Homo sapiens: one gene and its partners. The protein of the gene in region 2 interacts with the protein of the main gene of each other region in a pairwise test. Each region holds a gene or a part of one and is shown on either strand. Other genes may lie near its edges. The genes, in order: MCM6, SNRPB2, HNRNPUL1 and GABPB2.

What was found.
Region 1: the proteins of SNRPB2 (region 2) and MCM6 interact in binary tests that used the Homo sapiens proteins (3 or more experiments, as listed by UniProt).
Region 3: the proteins of SNRPB2 (region 2) and HNRNPUL1 interact in a two-hybrid assay, tested with the Homo sapiens proteins (one large-scale study listed by BioGRID and IntAct).
Region 4: the proteins of SNRPB2 (region 2) and GABPB2 interact in binary tests that used the Homo sapiens proteins (3 or more experiments, as listed by UniProt).

The regions. Positions count from the first base shown.
Region 1 is NC_000002.12:135,864,976-135,869,969, reverse strand, and holds part of MCM6 (DNA replication licensing factor MCM6), read left to right. Parts: intron 1-1,109; coding exon 1,110-1,359; intron 1,360-3,241; coding exon 3,242-3,407; intron 3,408-3,692; coding exon 3,693-3,838; intron 3,839-4,806; coding exon 4,807-4,957; intron 4,958-4,994. UniProt on the Homo sapiens protein: Acts as a component of the MCM2-7 complex (MCM complex) which is the replicative helicase essential for 'once per cell cycle' DNA replication initiation and elongation in eukaryotic cells.
Region 2 is NC_000020.11:16,732,548-16,737,541, forward strand, and holds part of SNRPB2 (U2 small nuclear ribonucleoprotein B''), read left to right. Parts: intron 1-4,713; coding exon 4,714-4,854; intron 4,855-4,994. UniProt on the Homo sapiens protein: Involved in pre-mRNA splicing as component of the spliceosome. Associated with sn-RNP U2, where it contributes to the binding of stem loop IV of U2 snRNA.
Region 3 is NC_000019.10:41,266,446-41,271,439, reverse strand, and holds part of HNRNPUL1 (heterogeneous nuclear ribonucleoprotein U-like protein 1), read right to left. Parts: intron 3,218-4,994; coding exon 3,095-3,217; intron 1-3,094.
Region 4 is NC_000001.11:151,072,816-151,077,809, forward strand, and holds part of GABPB2 (GA-binding protein subunit beta-2), read left to right. Parts: intron 1-223; exon of another isoform or gene 224-342; intron 343-4,994. UniProt on the Homo sapiens protein: May function as transcription factor capable of interacting with purine rich repeats (GA repeats).

The DNA of each region.
Region 1 (4,994 bases), on a different chromosome or scaffold from region 2:
ATGCTGTAAAATACCAGGAGGAAAAAATAGTGGTTTGCATTCAGATTTTGTAGAAGGTTGACTTTTGTAGGAGTTATACCCACTTATCCAGAAAGTTTAGTGTTGGAGAAATGTATTTTCCTATGGAGATGGGATTAGATGTAAAGGGAGTGAAGCAAATTTTTAGGATTATCACATTTTAGGGCGCCTTTTAGGGAAATTTGGGAGAAAATTGATCAAGGGAGAAAATATGAAATTCTAGAAATTCCTGAATCTCTGGAAATTTTTGTTGGTTTAAATGCATAATTTTCAAACACCCCTTTGGCAGTTATTTTAAGAATAAATTTACTGGATAAAATTGAAGTGATATTTTGAAAAGTTAAACTACTGAAATTATAAAATTACCAAATTACTTCACATAAAATGGGTTTGTAAAGGAAGTGTTTCTGAACTTTGAGTACAAAATTTTTTCTCATGATAGGATTATTATGTAACACATGCTTTTTTTTTTAGAAATTGCGGGTAAGCAAAAAAGTATTTGCATATAAAACAAAAACAGGATCATTCTGTTTTTGTTTTTTTTTTTTTCTGAGACAGAGTCTTGCTCTGTCACCCAGGCCAGAGTGCAGTGGCACGATCTTGGCTCACTGCACCCTCCACCTCCCGGGTTCAAACAATTCTCCTGCCTCGGCTCCCCGAGTAGCTGGGATTACAGGCGCCCGCCACCACGACTGGCTAGTTTTTGTATTTTTAGTAGAGGTGGGGTTTCGCCATGTTGGCCAGGATGGTCTTGATCTCTTGACCTCATGATCCGCCCACCTTGGTCTCCCAAAGTGCTGGGATTACAGGTGTGAGTCACTGCGCCCAGCCCGTTCTGTTTTATAATTTTAATTTTCATTTTTTTGGCATCCTTTAGTTCATTTATATATTTTGTTCTGGATACATATACGTCATATAATTTAGGATTGGGCACGTTGACTAAATTATTCTTATAGGAGAGTCCAAAGAATACCTTGTCTCTTGAATTTTTTTTTTAAACATAAATTATCTTTGAATACCCTCTCACTAAAATGGAAAGATTCTTAGTTAAGAGATGAATGTTTACTAATGGGACATTTGTCTTTAAACAGGATTCGAGAGCTCACCTCATCCAGAATTGGTTTGCTCACTCGCATCAGTGGGCAGGTGGTGCGGACTCACCCAGTTCACCCAGAGCTTGTGAGCGGAACTTTTCTGTGCTTGGACTGTCAGACAGTGATCAGGGATGTAGAACAGCAGTTCAAATACACACAGCCAAACATCTGCCGAAATCCAGTTTGTGCCAACAGGAGGAGATTCTTACTGGATACAAATAAATCAAGATTTGTTGATTTTCAAAAGGTATTTATTTAACATCTGTTTAGATCAGAGTCCATCTATGATAATAATTCACTTCTAGGCCCTTGCAATAGCTTATTTAGATAATGTTCAACTCAATTTTTATGTAAGTTAAGCATCATCAAAATGACTACAAAGTTAAGCCCAAAACTGTTCATGTAAATTATAATTGTTAGTATATACATTTGTTTTAACTTTCAGTAACTTGGAAGTTCCTTAAGACTGACAAGATGTATTTGTCAAAGAATAAATGGTAACTAGGTGGTGGTGGTTGTCATTATGAACTGGAGTTAAGAAAACTTAAAGAAATAGCAACTTGTTAGTGTAAGATTTCCATTTGCTGCATAGAAAGGAAAGCATGAATAGGACAGGCTAGCTTGGAAGCAATGAGGATTATCATGATTGAAGTAAAGGAGCCAAATTGGAGATCATCTGAGAGATGATTTGATGTGAGACCTGGAGGTACTTGGATCCCTAAATCTTAGGCTGAGGAGTTTGAGCCTATCTTAATAAGCAGTGGGAATATAGTGGGAAGGTAGTTTGTGTGTGTGGGTGTGTGTTTGTTTTGTTTTGTTTTTTGTTTTTTTTTGAGACAGTCTCTCTCTGTCACCCAGGCTGGAGTGCAGTGGCGCGATCTCGGCTCACTGCAAGCTCCGCCTCCTGGGTTCACGCCATTCTCCTGCCTCAGCCTCCCGAGTAGCTGGGACTACAGGTGCCCACCACCACACCCGGCTAATTTTTTGTATTTTTAGTAGAGACAGGGTTTCATCGTGTTAAACCAGGATGGTCTCGATCTCCTGACTTCGTGATCCGCCTGCCTCTGCCTCCCAAAGTGCTGGGATACAGGCGTGAGCCACTGCACCCAGCCTGTGTGTTTTTTTTTAAAAGCAAACTGAATAAGTCCGTGATGGGTTTAACAGAGGGTAATAGGCAATTTCAGTTACCTGGGCAAGAGGTGATGGATGGCAGTAGTAAGAATGAAGGGGACCCTCAGATTTCAGCAGGACTTAATTTTATGGGACATACAAAATGGAAAGAAAAGCTGAAGCAGCTCAAGTATGGAATAATTATTATCAGATGAATTTAATATTATTTATATTGCTCTGATAATCATTCTCCTTATTTGGCTTTCTTACATTAACCTGGTAGCTTATAAGATGCACATATTTTACCAACAGCTTTGGGTAGGAGATGTCTTATCTTATAAAGTATGAATCTAGATTGGGTCTTAGTTTGGGGGGGGGAACACAACTGTATAAAGGACACTCTTGACAAGACATTTGAAGATGGACTAGATAATAGAAGATATGTAATTTTATGAAATTAAATATTGTTTAATTATCTTGGTTGTGATAATGATATTGTAACAGGATTGTCTTTATTCTTAGAGATGAATGCTAAAATATTTAGGTATGAAGTTTCTTGATGTTCACAACTGTGTTCAAATACATAGTAAAAAAACATGTATCTGTAAATAATGTTAGCAGTTGTGTTGAAGTGGAGGGTATAAAAGGTGTATTTGAAATTTTCTGTAAAATTATCTTAAAGCTTAGGAGAAGATGGAGCATGGAACAGATATTTGGAGTCATTTTGAACAAAGAAAAAAATTATTTTTTAATGAGTAAAAGTGAAGTTTTTTTTTTCTCTGCTGCTTGAATCATCATGGAGTTTTTAAATAGATGTAATCTCTTGCCAAATTGAACTATTTGACTAAAAGGAGTTTTAGAGTAGATAATTTTTAGGATAAATGTTGGTACATGTGAAAAGTCTGCTAATGGGTCAGATAGTTTAGAATACGTCCGTATTTGTGGTATTTAATTTAGATTATATGGCATCTGAAAGGTATTGCTTCTCATTCTTGGTTGGTTGTTTGTCTGTATTACAGGTTCGTATTCAAGAGACCCAAGCTGAGCTTCCTCGAGGGAGTATCCCCCGCAGTTTAGAAGTAATTTTAAGGGCTGAAGCTGTGGAATCAGCTCAAGCTGGTGACAAGTGTGACTTTACAGGGACACTGATTGTTGTGCCTGACGTCTCCAAGCTTAGCACACCAGGTCAGTAATCTGTGGCTCAAATTTAACAAATTCTCAGTTACCTAAACTGCACAGTATCTAGCTTCCCACATCTTCATTGTCTTCTTTTTGGCTACCAATCAGAAGCTGAGGAACGAAGTGTGATGAGAATAAAAACAAATTGGTTTTGCCACAAATGGTGCTATTCTGAAAGTATTCAAGGCTTAAGTGAAGTCTTTGGATTTATAGCTTTCATTTATTTGAGCAATTTTGATGTTCAGCACCTTTAATATTTAAGTTGTGAAACAACCTATCATTCTGTTTCAGGAGCACGTGCAGAAACTAATTCCCGTGTCAGTGGTGTTGATGGATATGAGACAGAAGGCATTCGAGGACTCCGGGCCCTTGGTGTTAGGGACCTTTCTTATAGGCTGGTCTTTCTTGCCTGCTGTGTTGCGCCAACCAACCCAAGGGTCAGTCGTTTTGGGGGTTTTTGTTTGTTTTTGAAACAGTCTCTCTCTGTCACCCAGGCTGGAGTGCAATGGCAAAGTCATGGCTCACTGTAGCCTCCACTTTCTGGGCTCAAGTGATCCTACCATCTCAACCTCCTGAGTAGCTGGGATTATAGGTGTGAATCACTGCACCCAGCTAATTAAAAAAACTTTTTTAGAGATGAGGTCTTGCTCTGTTGGCCAGGCAGGCCAACAGTGAGTCTTAGTAGAGTGACAGCTTAAGAAACACCTACCCTGAGCTGCCACGAAATGATAGGATTCTGAAACATCTGGGCTGTCTCATCAATGTTGAGAGCACGGGATGGGGTTAAGATTTGATGAGTTTTAAAACCAAATCTTTTGACGTATGCCTTTCTGATCTTGAAAAAAAGTCTTATTTGATGTCTTACATAAAAGCTCAATGCTTTTAAGTGCAGTGGTACAAATTATCCACGCTGTTTTTTGTTTTAAAGTTTCATAGTTCCTCTGTTATTCTTCTGGAGGAAATACAAATAAAAAGATTTAGTAATCTGGGAAGTAAACTTCTGAGAATGATGAACCCCTGGCAGTATCATTCAGTTAACTTGATTCTGTGTCATAAATGGGAGTTTGGAAAATAGTTCAGTATTGGAAAAAGGGAGTGAACATAATATTCTCTTATTTTATTTGCATCTTTATGTCAGTGATTAACATTCTGCTATCGCTTATCTCTTGAGCATTCAGGTAGCTTTTTTTCTATTTAACTCACTGGACAAATGACATACCCTTAAGTGTCTTTGTTAACTGAGGGCTTACTAGTTTGGGGAGTTGTTTTTTTTTAAACCTTTACAGTCAATAAATTGTGAGGTTGACTTCCCATGCTATGTTGTGTTTGTAATGAAGTTTCTTCTCCTTTATGCTCTTTTGACTGCTTCTATACTAATGATTCTTCCTTTGTTCTCTACCATTAGTTTGGGGGGAAAGAGCTCAGAGATGAGGAACAGACAGCTGAGAGCATTAAGAACCAAATGACTGTGAAAGAATGGGAGAAAGTGTTTGAGATGAGTCAAGATAAAAATCTATACCACAATCTTTGTACCAGCCTGTTCCCTACTATACATGGTAAGAATTCCATCCATTTGTACCATAAACTTGAAAT
Region 2 (4,994 bases):
ATTTTAAAAAATAATGGCAGTCTAGGCAATAGTCTTATCTCAAAAAGTTAGAAATTAATAATATCCTGGAAGACTTGAAAAGAAACCTGTTTGTAAACTTGTAAAACATTACGAAACAAAAGTCATGAGTCAAAGAGGAAATTCAGTCTGAAGTTTTAGAATATGTCGTAGTGAAATACTATGTGTCAGAAGCTGCACAGTCTAGATGAAACAGTGATCTAAGGAAAAATGATAGGTTTAAACTCATAGGTTTTAGGAATAACAATGGAAATGAAATGGTTATGAATGGAGAGTTTTAAACTCAGGAATGACATAATGAGATTCACATCTAGCTGCTGGATGAAGGTCGCATTGTGGGAGGGACAGAAAGGAAGTGGGAAACTCAATTAGGAGGCCCTTGATGTAAGTCAGAGATGGTAGAGGATCAGATAAGGGTGACCACAGAGTGTGAAGCAAGGGGTTTCTATGTATGAGTGAATACACCATATCTTAGGTGTGGATTCCAAACTGCTTTTTTTCTGCGATTAGAATGTGATGTGAAGGAGTGTTGGACAGAGAGCCAAGGGCCAGGGTTTAGAGGAGCTGGGTCTTCATTCTGGTTGTACTATTAACTGGCTCTGTGCCCGTGGTTAGTTTTACCACCTCCGGTAAACAAATTGGTTGTTCTTTGGTCTAATGCAGGCATCAGCAAAAACTGTAAAGAAGTACATAATACCTTAGGCTTTGTAAGCCATATATGGTTTCTGTTACCTGTTCTTTTATGTACTTACGTTTTTTAACAACCCTTTAACATTATCTAAGAAAATTCATGTAGGCCATGCTAATGCAGGCCTGTGGGCAGGGTTTGGCTCACAGACTGTGGTACAGACCGCTGATCTAACCCATTCATTTTGCAGATGAAGAAACAGGCATAGAAAGTTTAATTGTTCATCTAGGTTATAGTAATATAACCAGTGGCAGCCTCAGGAGTTGACAACTAATCTAACAGCTAGTATTGTGATTTTTTTTCTGCATTACAGGTCAGCAAACTTTCCGTAAAGGACCAGATAGTAAATATGTTACACTTTGCAAGCCAGATAATCTGTGTTGCAACTACTACTCAACTCTGCTTTTATAGCAGGAAGAGCAGTCCCAGATGAGAACAGGCAGTGTTGGCTACAGACAGTAGTTTGAGGACCCCTGTTTTATACCATGATGCTTAATTCAAGCCTCAGCACCTTTTTTTCTGTTATTAGAGCAAGTTCTTCTCATCCTCTATCCAGCTCTCCTTTTCCCATCACTTCCCAGCTGACTGGACACCATTTTTGTGGAAAAGCCTATCCCAGGAAACTGTGGGATGGTACCTATGTAATGTAATTTTTAGTATATTGGTGTTTCCTGAAACCAGGCGGTCTCTCATAGTAGTATAAAGAAACACCATAATTGAGATCTCAGTTGGCAGCAGCATAGGGCCTGGGTTTTAGCTTACATCTAAAATTATATTAACTTGAAAGTACAGTTTCTTCCCATAGAGGGTTTAGAGCTATTTTGCTGAGTTGAGATGACAAGTTTGCATGTGTCTGTTACTCAGATACAGGAAAGGAAATTGTTTGCTGTGTTGGGCACCAGCCTCACCTTGCCAACTAATTATTTTTTAAAATTAGTGGGAAAGTGTATTAGATTGATTATTATATTGAAGCATTTTGGGAGGTCTATTCTTTTCCTACAGAAAGGTAACAGATACTGCCAAATCTCCATCTTAGAAGAGGGGAAATAGAGTTCTTTGGGCTGTCTTGTTTATGTCTTACTGTGGTTGTAGTTGCTCTTCTGTTTTAACTCCAACATACCGATCAGAAATGAACAAAATTTGCTATAACTTGGAACTCAGAACAGAATTACTCTCTCTGATTCAAGGGCATTTAGTTAATGCCAAAAGTACCTTAATAAAGTAGAACTGTCTTCCTAAGGGCTTCGTCATGAAAACTTTGGCATAAGTGTAAATCTTGCCCTTCTCTAAGTTGTGGTTAGACTTTTATCTCTAATAGGTATTTAGCCTAGACTAGCGTTTCTCAACCCTGTCACTTTGGACATTTTGAAATGAGTGAGTCTTTGTTGCAGGGGGCTGTCTTGTTCATTACCCCGTGTTTAACAGCATCCCTGGCCTCTACCCACAGGATGCCAGTAGCATAACAACGAGTAATGTCTCCAGCTAGTGCTAGCTGTGCTCTGACAGACAAAATCACCTCTGGTTGAGAACCACTGGTTTAAATGAGCCAGCTAAGAGCTATTGCTGAGATCAGGTGTTTTCACAGGTGACTAGGTCATAAGGACAGACAAATCAGGTCACCGAAGATCTATTCAGGTCAGGCACGAGGTTGCAGAGCCAAGGGAGTTGTGAGGGAACCCTTAGGACCAAGTCAGAAGTTAGTCTAACCCTTCAGCCTGTCTCCTTTTGGTTAGATGATGATGGCAAGACTAGCAGAGTTGCATGCAGGGATAAGCACACTTAGAGCCACTGTGGTACGGCAGCCCAGACCAGCCAGAAAGAGCCTGGGATTCTGAGGTGTGGGTTTAGGCCTACTCCCTCCCCTCTTGTTTCCCCAGTGTAGTCATCTCTAGCTGAAGTAAAGGAAGAGGAAGAACTGATCTTGGTTTTGACAAATTCTTTGCTTTGTAATCCACACTACTTTAAAATGTTTCTTGTTCTCTTCAGATCAAGATCAAATTCTTGTTATACGAGGCAATAAAATTTTGCATACCTATTGTATACAAAGTAATTTGTACAGATTACTACAAAGTAGTAATTTGTAGGATTATTGCATTTTGATCAGAGAGGCAATAATTCTTTCAGCTCCAAGGAGGAAGAGTTTGCTTGAAATGGAGGTTGGAGATTGCAGATAGTCCTACCTAGATAACGGTTTAACTTATGGCAGAAATATTCAGACAGTTCATTGGCGCTGAGTATAGTTATGTGATAATGCTTTAAGCCAGGGCTACTCAAAATGTGGTCCCCATGCCAATAACATTACCATCTTCTTTGTGCTTGTTACAAGTGCAGAATCCCAGGTTTGCCCAGACCTACTACATCAGAGCTTTTACCTACTTTCCAGGCATTTGGAATGCAAACTATAATTGATCAAATACTATCTTGGACAAGTTTTTGAACCCTTCCCTGTTGTAACTGTTGCCTCTTGGTGCCAGCATGAAAGGCATATGCAAGTGGTCCAGTCACATTATCTGTGATTCCATTCTTTTGTTTCCTTTTAAAACATTTTAAAATTTAGTAAGTTGATTCCACTGTTAAAGTCATTTCATGTAAAGGTGATAGATTCAAAGGAAAGTCATTCCCAGTCTTCTGTACTTTTAACTATTGGAAGTAACATTCCATATGACACATTCCACAGCTGCGACACATGTCAATGCTTCTATTGAGAGTCACTGGTAAGGGGAAGGCAACTCTCCAATGCATTTTTGTTGTTGTTGTTTTTGTTCTGTGTGTGTCTGTTTTTTTAAACACACGTGCTTATAGCAGCTTTATTCCTAATCGCCAAAAACTGTAAACAAACCAAGTATCCTTCATTGAATGATGTAAATCAAATTGGTACATCAATACGATGAAATACTACTCGCTGTTAAAAGCAACGGCATAGATGAATCTCAAAGACATTATGCCAAGTAAAGGAAGGCAGCCTCCAGGTTATATCATGTATGATCCTATCTATGTGACATTCTGGAAAGGGCAGCAGGGACAGAGAACAGATGAGTGTTTGGAAGAGGAGGGGTGGGGTAACAAAGGGGAAGCATGAGGGGATTTTTAGGTGATAGAACTGCCCTGTGTCCTGATTGTGGTGGTAGATACATTAATCTTTACAAATGTTACAACTCAGAGCTGTACATCCAAAAAGTTACGATGCAAAAAAGTTTTATTTAAATCCTCACATTTATGATGTTTAGAATTCTAAAAAATGAAAAAAAATTCAAATAAACTCATTAAAAATGGTTTAAAAGAAATTTTCCATCTAGTTTTCTGCCAGAAAAGTTGTTCTGTGGGGACTCTGCCAAACCAGCCCTAGTGTTCTGTGGGCCTATTCTATCTGTAAAACAGGATTAGTCTAGAATGGCGATTTTCTTTATTTTTCACCAGCTCCCTCAAATTGCATCCCTAGGTGCTCCCTCTGTGACTGTGGGGTGAGGGTAGGTTTGGAGAGGAAAGGGCATTTGGCCTCCAGTGGGCTCTGGAGCCACAGTTCTATGTCAAGCTGAGCAGTTTTGCTTTTGTTTGTTTTATATGTTGTTTGTTGAATACCTCTGGATTAGAATAGCTGATCTTGAGCCAGATCCTCAGGCACTGAGGAGATTTGAACAGTTCAGGATTCCAAAGCCCGCTGGTGGAGCCCACTCATTTGTTCCTTTAACACTTCAATGCAGTTTTCTCTATTCTTTGATTAAATGGAGAGAAGCCGTGGTACAGATATTTCAAAGTCCTGTGTTTCTCACATGAAAATATATGTTTTTTTAATCTAATAAACACACTTGAATCTAACTTTGTCTAAATTATGAATTATAGCCCACAGTTTACTTCCATTTGGCACTCAGTATATTCTGACAGATTTTCTTAGGGATATGTTTAAAATTAGCTTGTAGTGTATTTGCGTAATGAAATTTGAAATATTAATGACTAGTGTAAACATCCTTCAGCATGAGAAGTAACCTGTTTTCAAATAATTAAAACAGCGAATACAGTATGCAAAAACAGATTCGGATATAATATCAAAAATGCGTGGAACTTTTGCTGACAAAGAAAAGAAAAAAGAAAAGAAAAAAGCCAAAACTGTGGAACAGACTGCAACAACCACAAACAAAAAGCCTGGCCAGGTAAGAAAGACCAAGAAAGTTCCTGTTTGTATTGGTGTTAAAAACTTGATAGATGCTTGTCTTACAGGTAAGGAATGATCTTAGGCTTGTCTGTATATGTGCATAAATGTGTGTTTAAAAGGTGGTTTTAAGAAGCTAGA
Region 3 (4,994 bases), on a different chromosome or scaffold from region 2:
TGTGGACCACATCTCTCAGAAAAGTCTCCTGGTTCTCTAGGGCTGGGATGGTGCTCAGCCATCCTGAAGAGAGCTTCCCTGGTTCCCAGCAATAGGTTGGGCTCACACAGGGCTCCTGATGAATGTCTGTGGATAACGGCACAGAAAATATTCTCCTGTGGCTGAATGATCCTACAAGTCTCACAGAGCCTGACACAAATCTGCGGTTTAACCTACATTCAGTAAAGTTCTGAGCCACCCACAAGAAATGTCTGGGGATTTAACTTTGTGGATGAACCAGAATGGCGTTAGACAAAATCAACCAGATACACTAAGAAAAGGCACTGGGAGGCCACAACACAGTAAAAGCAGCACAAAACTGGGGGTCAGTCCGGGCTCCATCAGTTCTCAATAGTGGGACCCTGCTTTCCAAATAGTAAGGCACAAATGATAAGGAATGCTGCTTATTAACCAAGAGGACTAGCCTGGGAGCAAGTATGCTAGGTTGTAGCCCCAGCTCTGCCATCGGACAAGCCAACTCCTCAATCTATAAAATGGGGAGGAGAGGCCAGGCGCAGTGGCTTACACCTGTAATCCCAGCACTCTGGGAGGCCGAGGCAGGCAGATCATGAGGTCAGGAGATTGAGACCATCCTGGCCAACATGGTGAAACCCCACATCTACTAAAAACACACAAAAAATTAGCTGGGTGTGGTGGCACGCCCGTAGTCCCAACTACTTAGGAGGCTGAGGCAGGAGAATCACTTGAACCTGGGAGGCAGAGGTTGCAGTGAGCCAAGATCACACCATTGTACTCCAGCCTGGGCAACAGAGCGAGACTCCATCTCAAAAAAAAAAAAAAAAAAAAGGGAAGGGAGAGTTGGCATCATGGGGAACTTTGTTCTGTAAAGACATATACTTAACATGATTGGGAAATCCTAAGTTTAAACGATACAACACAAGGTTTTTTGTCTATTTTTTTATTAAAAAAAATATTTTCAGCAACACCAGCCCAAGAAGACACAAGGTTTTTAAATTTAATTAAAAAAAAAATTTTTTTGGAGACAGAGGCTTACTGTTGCCCAGGCTGGAATGCAGTGCTGCCATCATGGCTCATGGAGCCTCAACTTCCTAGCTCAAGTGATCCTCCCACCTCAGGGTCCAGAGTAGGTGGGACTTGGCCGGGTTCAGTGGCTCACGCCTGTAACCCCAGAACTTTGGGAGGCTGAGGCGGGCGGATCACCTGAGGTCAAGAGTTTGAGACCAGCCTGGCCAACATGGTAAAACCCCGTCACTACTGAAAATACAAAAATTAGCCAGGTGTGGTGGCAGGCGCCTGAAATCTCAGCTACTTGGGAGGCTGAGGCAGGAGAATCGCTTGAACCCGAGAGGCGGAGGTTGCAGTGAGCTGAGATCGCGCCATCGCCCTCCAGCCTGGGGAACAAGAGCGAGACTTCGTCTCAAAAAAAAAAAAAGAGTAGCTGGGGCTATAGGATTGTGCAACCATGCTCAGGTAATATTTTTATTTTTTATAGAGACAGGGTTATGTTGCCCAGGCTGGTCTTGAACTCCTGGACTCAAGCAATCCTCCCACCTCAGCCTCCCAAAGTGTTGGGATTACAGGCATGTAACAGCCATCGCACTCGGCCTGTTTTTATTTTTAAGGCAAGGTCTTCCTGTCGCCCAGGCTGCAGTGCCGTGCACGATCATAGCTTACTGCAGCCTTGAACTCCTGGGCTCAAGTGATCCTCCTGACTCAGTCTTCTGAGTAGCTGGGACTACAAGCATGTCACCATGCTCAGGCAATTTTTAATTTTTTCTAAAGACAACAGGGGTCTCACTATGTTGCCAGGCTAGTCTTGGATTCCTAGGCTCAAGTGATCCTCCTGACTTGGCCTCCTAAAGCGCTAGGATTACAAGCATGAGCCACTGTGTTCTAACCTACTTTTAATTTTAGGTTTTTTTTTTTTTTTTTTTTTTTCGTGACAGGGTCTTGCACTGTCACCCAGGCTGGAGTGTAGTAGTGTAATCATAGCTCACAGCAGCCTCAAACTCCTGGGCTCAAGTGATCCTCCTACCTTTGTCTCCTGAGTAGCTTTAACTATAGGTGTGTGCATGTAGTCAGTCATAGCCATGCCTGGCTAATTTTTAAATTTTTTGTAGAGAAGGGGTCTCACTATGTTGCCCAGTCTGGTCTGGAACTCCTGGTCTCAAATGATCCTACTACCTTGGCCTCCCAAAGTGTTGGAATTATAGGTATGAGCCAGCGCACCTGGCCTGAGGCCTGACACACACTTTCTTTTTTTTTTTTTAAATTCTGGACTTCTCAGAGCCTTTAATGTTCTAACAAGCACAGTGAATTTCCAAGAGACGATATAGCACATGCTACAGTTTCCAGACACATTTGGCTAAGGAACCCTTTTCTGAGAATCCCCTAATAATATCCCCTGAAACAATAATCTTCAGAACATGAGAAATACCAGATTAGACTTAGAAGGCTCTTTCTGGCTCCCCCATTCTAAGATTCTAAATAAGATTCAAGTATTAGTCTAGGGGTCTCAACTCTCCAGGGTGCTTATACTAACATCTTTTTTTTTTTGAGATGCAGTTTCACTCTTGTTGCCCAGACTGAGTGAAGTGCAATGACGCGATCTCGGCTCACTGCAACCTCCGCCTCCTGGGTTCAAGTGATTCTCCTGCCTCAGCCTCCCAAGTAGCTGGGATTACAGGTGCCTGCCACCATGCCTGGCTAATTTTTGTATTTTTAGTAGAGACGGGTTTCACCATATTGGCCAGGCTGGTCTCGAACTCCAGACCTCAGGTGATCCACCTGCCTCGGCCTCCCAAAGTGCTGGGATTACAGGAGGGAGCCACCACACCCGGCTGATACTAACATCACTTTTTTACAGATACCATGGAACCTCCCCTCTCCCAACACTTGGAAATAGGACTGAGATCTTTCCTTTAAACAATTCTTGCCAGAGTGACAATGTTTAGATGAACTGCCCAAGAAAAAAGATGCACAGTTTCTCTGGGAAGACCCGCTCTAAGCAGGGGGTAAAGGCTCCATGTAGATTGTTTCCATCCAAAGAGATGAACCATGTGTATTTTCCTACCTGGACGATAGGCCTGCTGCTGCTCCATTTCCAGTGGTCTCCTCTCGTAGCCTGACTCGTTTTCTTGTTTGATGACTTGGGTATCGTAGAATTGGTTCTGCCTGGTAATATTGTCCATGGCATCTTAAAACAAAATTAAAAATGGCCAATTAGAGGGGCGGTTCATGAAGAACCCTGGACCAAAGCATCCAGAAGGCATCTGCAGGTCCAGGAGCTCAACTAAGAGTGGTAAGAATAATAATATTAACTATTCATGGCATGCATACTATACTCCAGAGCCTGGGATACAGCTGAAGACAAGCTTGCCCCACTGAAGCCTTCAGTTTAGTGAGACAGACAAATCTTAAAGACACACAAAAATTTAATATGATTGTGTTGAAGGCTACAAAGTAGTACCAGGAATGAAGAAAGGGACCTGGAAAATAACAGATAAGCCTTGATTCAAAGGATACACAGGTAATGACTCAGTGATGAGAATGGAGAATGTTACTGGGGTTGGGATAACACGTGTGAAAGCTCAGAGGTGGAACTAAAACCAGAAATTCCCTCAAGAACCTTGCAGCCAAACCCAGAGAGAACTTTAGAAAGCTAGGATGGGCAGCATACAGGCTCTCCTCCCCAGGGGCTAGCTCTCAGTTAGGGCCCCAAGGGCCCTACCAGTGGCTATGCCAGGAGCCGTGAGCCAGAACCAAAGGGAAGGAGAGACTATTCTGCCACTTGCTAACTGATCGGATTCCTTCTCAGAGGATAAATACATCTGGGCACAAACCAGGTGCAGCCCAAAGGGAGGAAAGTCACAGGTCATGTGGTTTGCTACCGGTCTGTTTACCAAGGTTGAAGGAGGGCTTAAGGGAGGCATGAAGGGGGCTCAAAGGACTTTGTTGTAGCAAGTAAGGGAGAGAGGAAGAAATAGCATTATCTCCTTAATTGGAATATGGGGCCCTTTCAAACTATTCTGCTGCTTCCAGGCTCCAAGCACAATGCTCCTCTTCCCACAAAGCCTCTTTTCCCCAGCATCTCTCTCCTGTGTTCACAGAGGCAGCCCCTCCTGGAGAAGCTATAATTCTAGGGTCCTTCTCCATTCTCTAAAACATCCCTCTTCTCATAAAAGGCAGGCCCAGTGATAAGCCCTTCACATGTGATCTCATTCATAACACCCCTCAGGGGTTGGAGGGGCTGTGAACACACTATTTGTTGATTAACCCCATTTTACACATTAAGGAAACCAGGCCCACAGAGGTGAAGTGACTTGCCAATATCTTTAAGCCAGATTTGAAACGAAGTCTGTCTTAGTCTAGAGTCTACGCTCCAAAGCACCTAATTCGCTTTCCTCTCAGAGATGACTCTCTGCCCAGACCACCAGGTCACTACTAACCCACTACCCTTTCTTGCTAGGCATTCCTGCCACGATCCCTCCTGCTCTAGACACACACACAGGCCCACTCCTTTCTTCACAAGTCTCTGCAATGGGAAGTCCTCTTTCCAGCACCTGGGTCCTCGATAATCTCTAGGCCACTGCCTACCCCAAATCCACACTCCTCCCTCCGGGAAATTCTCTTATGAACAAGTATCCAATTCCAACCCCAAATCCTGTCTCTTCTGTTACCTCATTTCTCTCCTTATCCCCTTAGCCCCAAGTCCCAGGGTGCCCTCTTTTCAGAAAAACTCCACAAACTCTTACGCCAGAATCCCTTCTACTTACTCCTTAACCTTTCCAGTCCCCCCATTTCCCAGTCCTACTAGAAAGCTGCCCTGAGGCCTGGTGCAGTGATTCACGCCTGTAATCCCAGCACTTCAGGAGGCCGAGGTGAGATCACCTGAACCCAGGAGTTCAAGACCACCCTGGGCAACATAGCGAGACCCCCCATCTGTATTTAAAAAAAAGAGAAAGAAAGCTGCT
Region 4 (4,994 bases), on a different chromosome or scaffold from region 2:
CAGCTTGGGCAACAGGAGCAAAACTCCATCACAAACAAACAAACAAACAAACATACTTTATCCAGTCCCCTATTGATATATATTTAGGTTCTTTTCAATCTTTTTATTTCTTTTTATTTTTAGTTTTACTTTTAGAGACAGGGTCTTGCTCAGTACTTTATCCCATCCCCTATTGACATATATTTAGGTTCTTTTCCATCTTTTTTTATTTTTTTGTTTTTAGAGACAGCGTGTTGCTCAGTCACCCAGGCTGGAGTGCAGTGATCATAGCTCATCGCATCCTTGAACTCCTGGGCTTAAGCTATCCTCCCGCCTTAGCCTCCTGAATAGCTAGGACCACAGGTATGGGCCACCACACCCTGCTAATTTTTTTATTTTTGTATTTTTGTAGAGACAGAGTCCCTCTGTGTTGTCCCGGCTGGGATCAAATTCCTGGCTTCAACTGATCCTCCTGCTTTGGCTTCCCAAAGCACTGGGATTTATTTTATTCATCTCCAAAATCCTAGAAGGCAAGTGAGACAGATTTTGTTTCCTCAGTTTATGTATAGGGAAAGTGGAGGTACAGCCAGCAAGGGAGAACATGTTAGTTGTCTGTAGTCAAGGAGTCAGAAGTGCCTAGACTGTTTTCTGATGTATCAGGCTTCATCTCTTGTCTGGTTGATGGGCCACCAGGCAGGTATTGACCACCTGCCAGAACCAGCATGGACAAGATACTGGGAGAATGGCATATAGTTCCCCTCAAAATGCTGTGTTTTTTGTTTGTTTTTTGTTGTTTTGTTTTGTTTTATTTTAAGTGAAAGCAAGTTGCTTGAGAAAGTAAAGGAAGGCCGGCGCGGTGGCTCATCCCCGTAATCCCAGCACTTTGGGAGGCTGAGGCGGGCAGATCACAAGGTCAGGAGTTCAAGACCAGCCTGGCCAACATGGTGAAACCCCGTCTCTAATAAAAATACAAAAATTAGCTGGGCATGGTGGCGTGCATCTGTAGTCCCAGCTACTTGGGAGGCTGAGGCAGGAGAATCACTTGTACCCAGGAGGCAGAGTTTGCAGTGAGCCAAGATCGCGCCACTGTACTCCAGCCTGGTGACAGAGCAAGTCTCTGGCTAAAAAAGAAAGTAAAGAAAAAAAGAATAGCTACTCCATGGGCAGTATTATTATGGTTATTTCTTTTTTTTTTTTTTTTTTTGAGAGTCTTGCTCTGTCGCCCAGGCTGGACTGCAGTGGCGCTATCTCGGCTCGCTGCAAGCTCCGCTTCCTAGTTCATGCCATTCTCCTGCCTCAGCCTCCTGAGTAGCTGGAATTACAGTCACCTGCCACGGCGCCCGGCTAATTTTTTGTATTTTTAGTAGAGACGGGGTTTCACCATGTTAGCCAAGATGGTCTCGATCTCCTGACCTCGTGATTCTCCCGCCTCAGCCTCCCAAAGTGCTAGGATTACAGGCGTGAGCCACCGCGCCCGGCTGGTTATTTCTTGATTGTATGCTAAACATGCTTCCGCTTTTTTTTTTTTTTTTTCCAGACGGAGTCTCGCTCTGTCGCCCAGGCTGGAGTGCAGTGGCGTGATCACGGCTCACTGCAAGCTCCACTTCCTGGGTTCACGCCATTATCCTGCCTCAGCCTCTCGAATAGCTGGGACTGCAGGCCCCCGCCACCATGCCCAGCTAATTTTTTTTTTTTTTTGTATTTTTAGTAGAGACGGGGTTTCACCACGTTAGCCAGGATGGTCTCGATCTCCTGACCTCATGAGCCGCCCTCCTCAGCCTCCCAAAGTGCTGGGATTACAGGCGTGAGCCACCGCACCCAGCAGCCTCCTCTTTTTAGACCATATAGGGTAACTTCCTGACATTGCCATGGCATTTGTAAGCTGCCATGGCATGGCACTGGTGGGAGTGTAGCAGAGAGAACAACCAGAGGTCACTCTTGTCCTCTTGTCGCCATCTTGCTTTTGGTGGGTTTTAGCCAGCTTCTTTACTATGGCCTGTTTTATCAGCAAAGTCTTTATGATCTGTATCTCGTGCTGACCTCCTATCTCATCCTGTAACTAAGAATGCCTTAACTGACTGGGCACAGTGGCTCACACCACTTTGGGAGGCCGAGGTGGGTGGATCACTTGAGGTCAGGAGTTCAAGACCAGCCTGGCCAACATGGTGAAACCCTGTCTCTACTAAAAATACAAAAATAAGCCAGGCAGTAGTGGCACACGCCTGTAATTCCAGCTACTCGGGAGGGTGAGGCAGGAGAATTGCTTGAGCATTAGAGGCAGAGGTTGTGGCGAGCCGAGATCGTGCCACCGCACTCCAGTCTGGGCGACAGAGTGAGACAGTCTCAAAAAACAAAACAAGGGCCAGGCGCAGTGGCTCATGCCTGTAATCCCAGCTCTTTGGGAGGCTGAGGCGGGCAGAGGTCAGGAGATCAAGACCATCCTGGCTAACACGGTGAAACTCCATCTGTACTAAAAATACAAAAAATTGGCCGGGCACGGTGGCTCATGCCTGTAATCCCAGCACTTTGGGAGGCCCAGGAGGGCAGATCACGAGGTCAGGAGATCGAGACCATCCTGGCTAACATGGTGAAACCCCATCTCTACTAAAAATACAAAAAATTAGCCGGGCATGGTGGCGGGCGCCTGTAGTCCCAGCTACTCGGGAGGCCGAGGCAGGAGAATGGCGTGAACCCAAGAGGCGGAGCTTGCAGTGAGCCGAGATTGTGCCACTGCACTCTAGCCTGGGCGACAGAGCGAGACTTTGTCTCAAAAAAAAAAAAAAAAAAAAAAAAAAATTTAGCCAGGTGGGAGACTGGGACAGGAGAATCGCTACAACCTGGGAGGCGGAAGTTGCAGCGAGCTGAGACTGCACCACTGGACTCCAGCCTAGGCAACAGAGCGAGACTTCATCTCAAAAAAACCCCCCCCAAAAAAACCCAAAAAAACACAAAACAAAACAAAAAAAGAATGCCTTAATGGGAATGCAGCCCAGTAGGTCTCAGCCTTATTTCACCCAACTCCTATGCAAGATGGAGTTGCTCTGGTTCAAACACCTCTGACATTTCTCCCATCCCTTTTATTAGAGAACCCTTAATCCTAGGGGTTACAAAGAAATAAAGATCCATCTTCTGTAACTTTTTCAGGGTGAATAGGGGCGATGATATTCCTGCCTGACTCTTAGGGTCTCTTGTATTCAGGGTTCAGAGAGGAGCTCAGTCAGAAAGCATCAGTATGGTGAGAGCTATTCATAACTCCAACAAAAGGTGATATCTGGAAGATTAAAAGGTGTTCAGTTTAAGAAAACATTCAGTAAGCTTATCCTGCATTCCTACACAAAGAGTACAACAGCAATATACTCCTCAACAGTAAAGCAAAATAAGCAAAACTATCCCAAGTAAATTAAATAAGAAGGTTTTCCATGAACTGGGCAACTGTTGGAACCAAGCTGATTTGGGGTTACTAGCTGATTCCAGTATGTGCCCAGAATTAGAATATTGATCCAGATTTTTACATTACCCATTCCTTTTGTTTCTTGTGAGCAGCAGCCAGAGATCACTGGTTGGTTCACAGGAATAAGCAGAGTTAATCTAAGTTGCAGAAAAAAACTTAAAAACAACTGATGAGACTAGAATTTTTATTTTTTTTATTTTTTGAGACAGAGTCTTATTCAGTCACCTAGGCTGGAGTGCAGTGGCACAATCTTGGTTCACTGCAAGCTCTGCCTCCTGGGTTCAAGCAATTCTCCTGCATCAGCCTCCGGAGTAGCTGGGATTACAGGCATATGCCACCACGTCCGGCTAATTTTTGTATTTTTAGTAGAAACGGGCTTTCACCATGTTGGCCAGGCTGGTCTCGAACACCTGACCTCAGGTGATCCACCCGCCTCAGCCTCCCAAAGTGCTGGGATTACAGGTGTGAGCCACTGTGCCTTGCCAGTCTCCCATTTTTACTAAAGGCAAATCATGGTAAAATAGATTGGCTTTATTAAACTTGGTCTGATTTTTTTTTTTTTTTTTGAGATGGAGTCTCACTCTGTCGCCCAGGCTGGAGTGCAGTGGCGCAATCTCGGCTCACTGCAAGCTCCACCTCCTGGGTTCATGCCATTCTCCTGCCTCAGCCTCCCGAGTAGCTGGGACTACAGGTGCCTGCCACCACACCCGGCTAATTTTTTGTATTTTTAGTAGAGACGGGGTTTCACTGTGTTAGCCAGGATGGTCTCAATCTCCTGACCTCGTGATCCGCCCTCCTGGGCCTCCCAAAGTGCTGGGATTACACTTGGTCTGATTATTTGTATAAAGTGCAGCAAGAATAATGATTTTTCACATAGGCTTTTTAAATTGGCTTTGAAAGAACTTTGTTCCGTAAAAGGAATCTCACATAAGACTTACAAAGCCAATTAAAGCCCGTTGGGAAAACTGGCCTCATACCTTGTCTAAAGTCCCTGTACAGGGTTCCTGATCTGTGGTAAGTAAAGAGTGTCACTTTCTGACTTTCTGACAGGCCCAGGAGCCCCACATTATCCTGGGACCTCAGGAGGGGAGGAATTTATCCAACTCATAGGTTTTTTTTTTTTTTTTTTTGAGATGGAGTCTCACTCTCTCACCAGGCTGGAGTGCAGTGGCGCAATCTCGGCTCACTGCAGCCTCTACCTCCCGGATTCAAGTGATTCTTCTGCCTCAGCCTCCTGAGTAGCTGGGACTACAGGCATGCAACACCACGCCCAGCTAATTTTTGTATTTTTAGTAGACACAGGGTTTCACCATGTTGGCCAGAATGGTCTTGTTCTCTTGACCTTGTGATCCGCCGCGCCCGGCCACTCATAGGTATTTGAGGGTATAAACCCATGGCTGGGCTCAGCTTTAAAAAAAAAAGAGAGGCCAGGCGCAGTGGCTCACGCCTGTAATCCCAGCACTTTGGGAAACCGAGGCAGGTGGATCACAAGGTCAGGAGTTCAAGACCAGCCTGACCAACATGGTGAAACCCTGTCTCTACTAAAAATACAAAAATTAGCCGG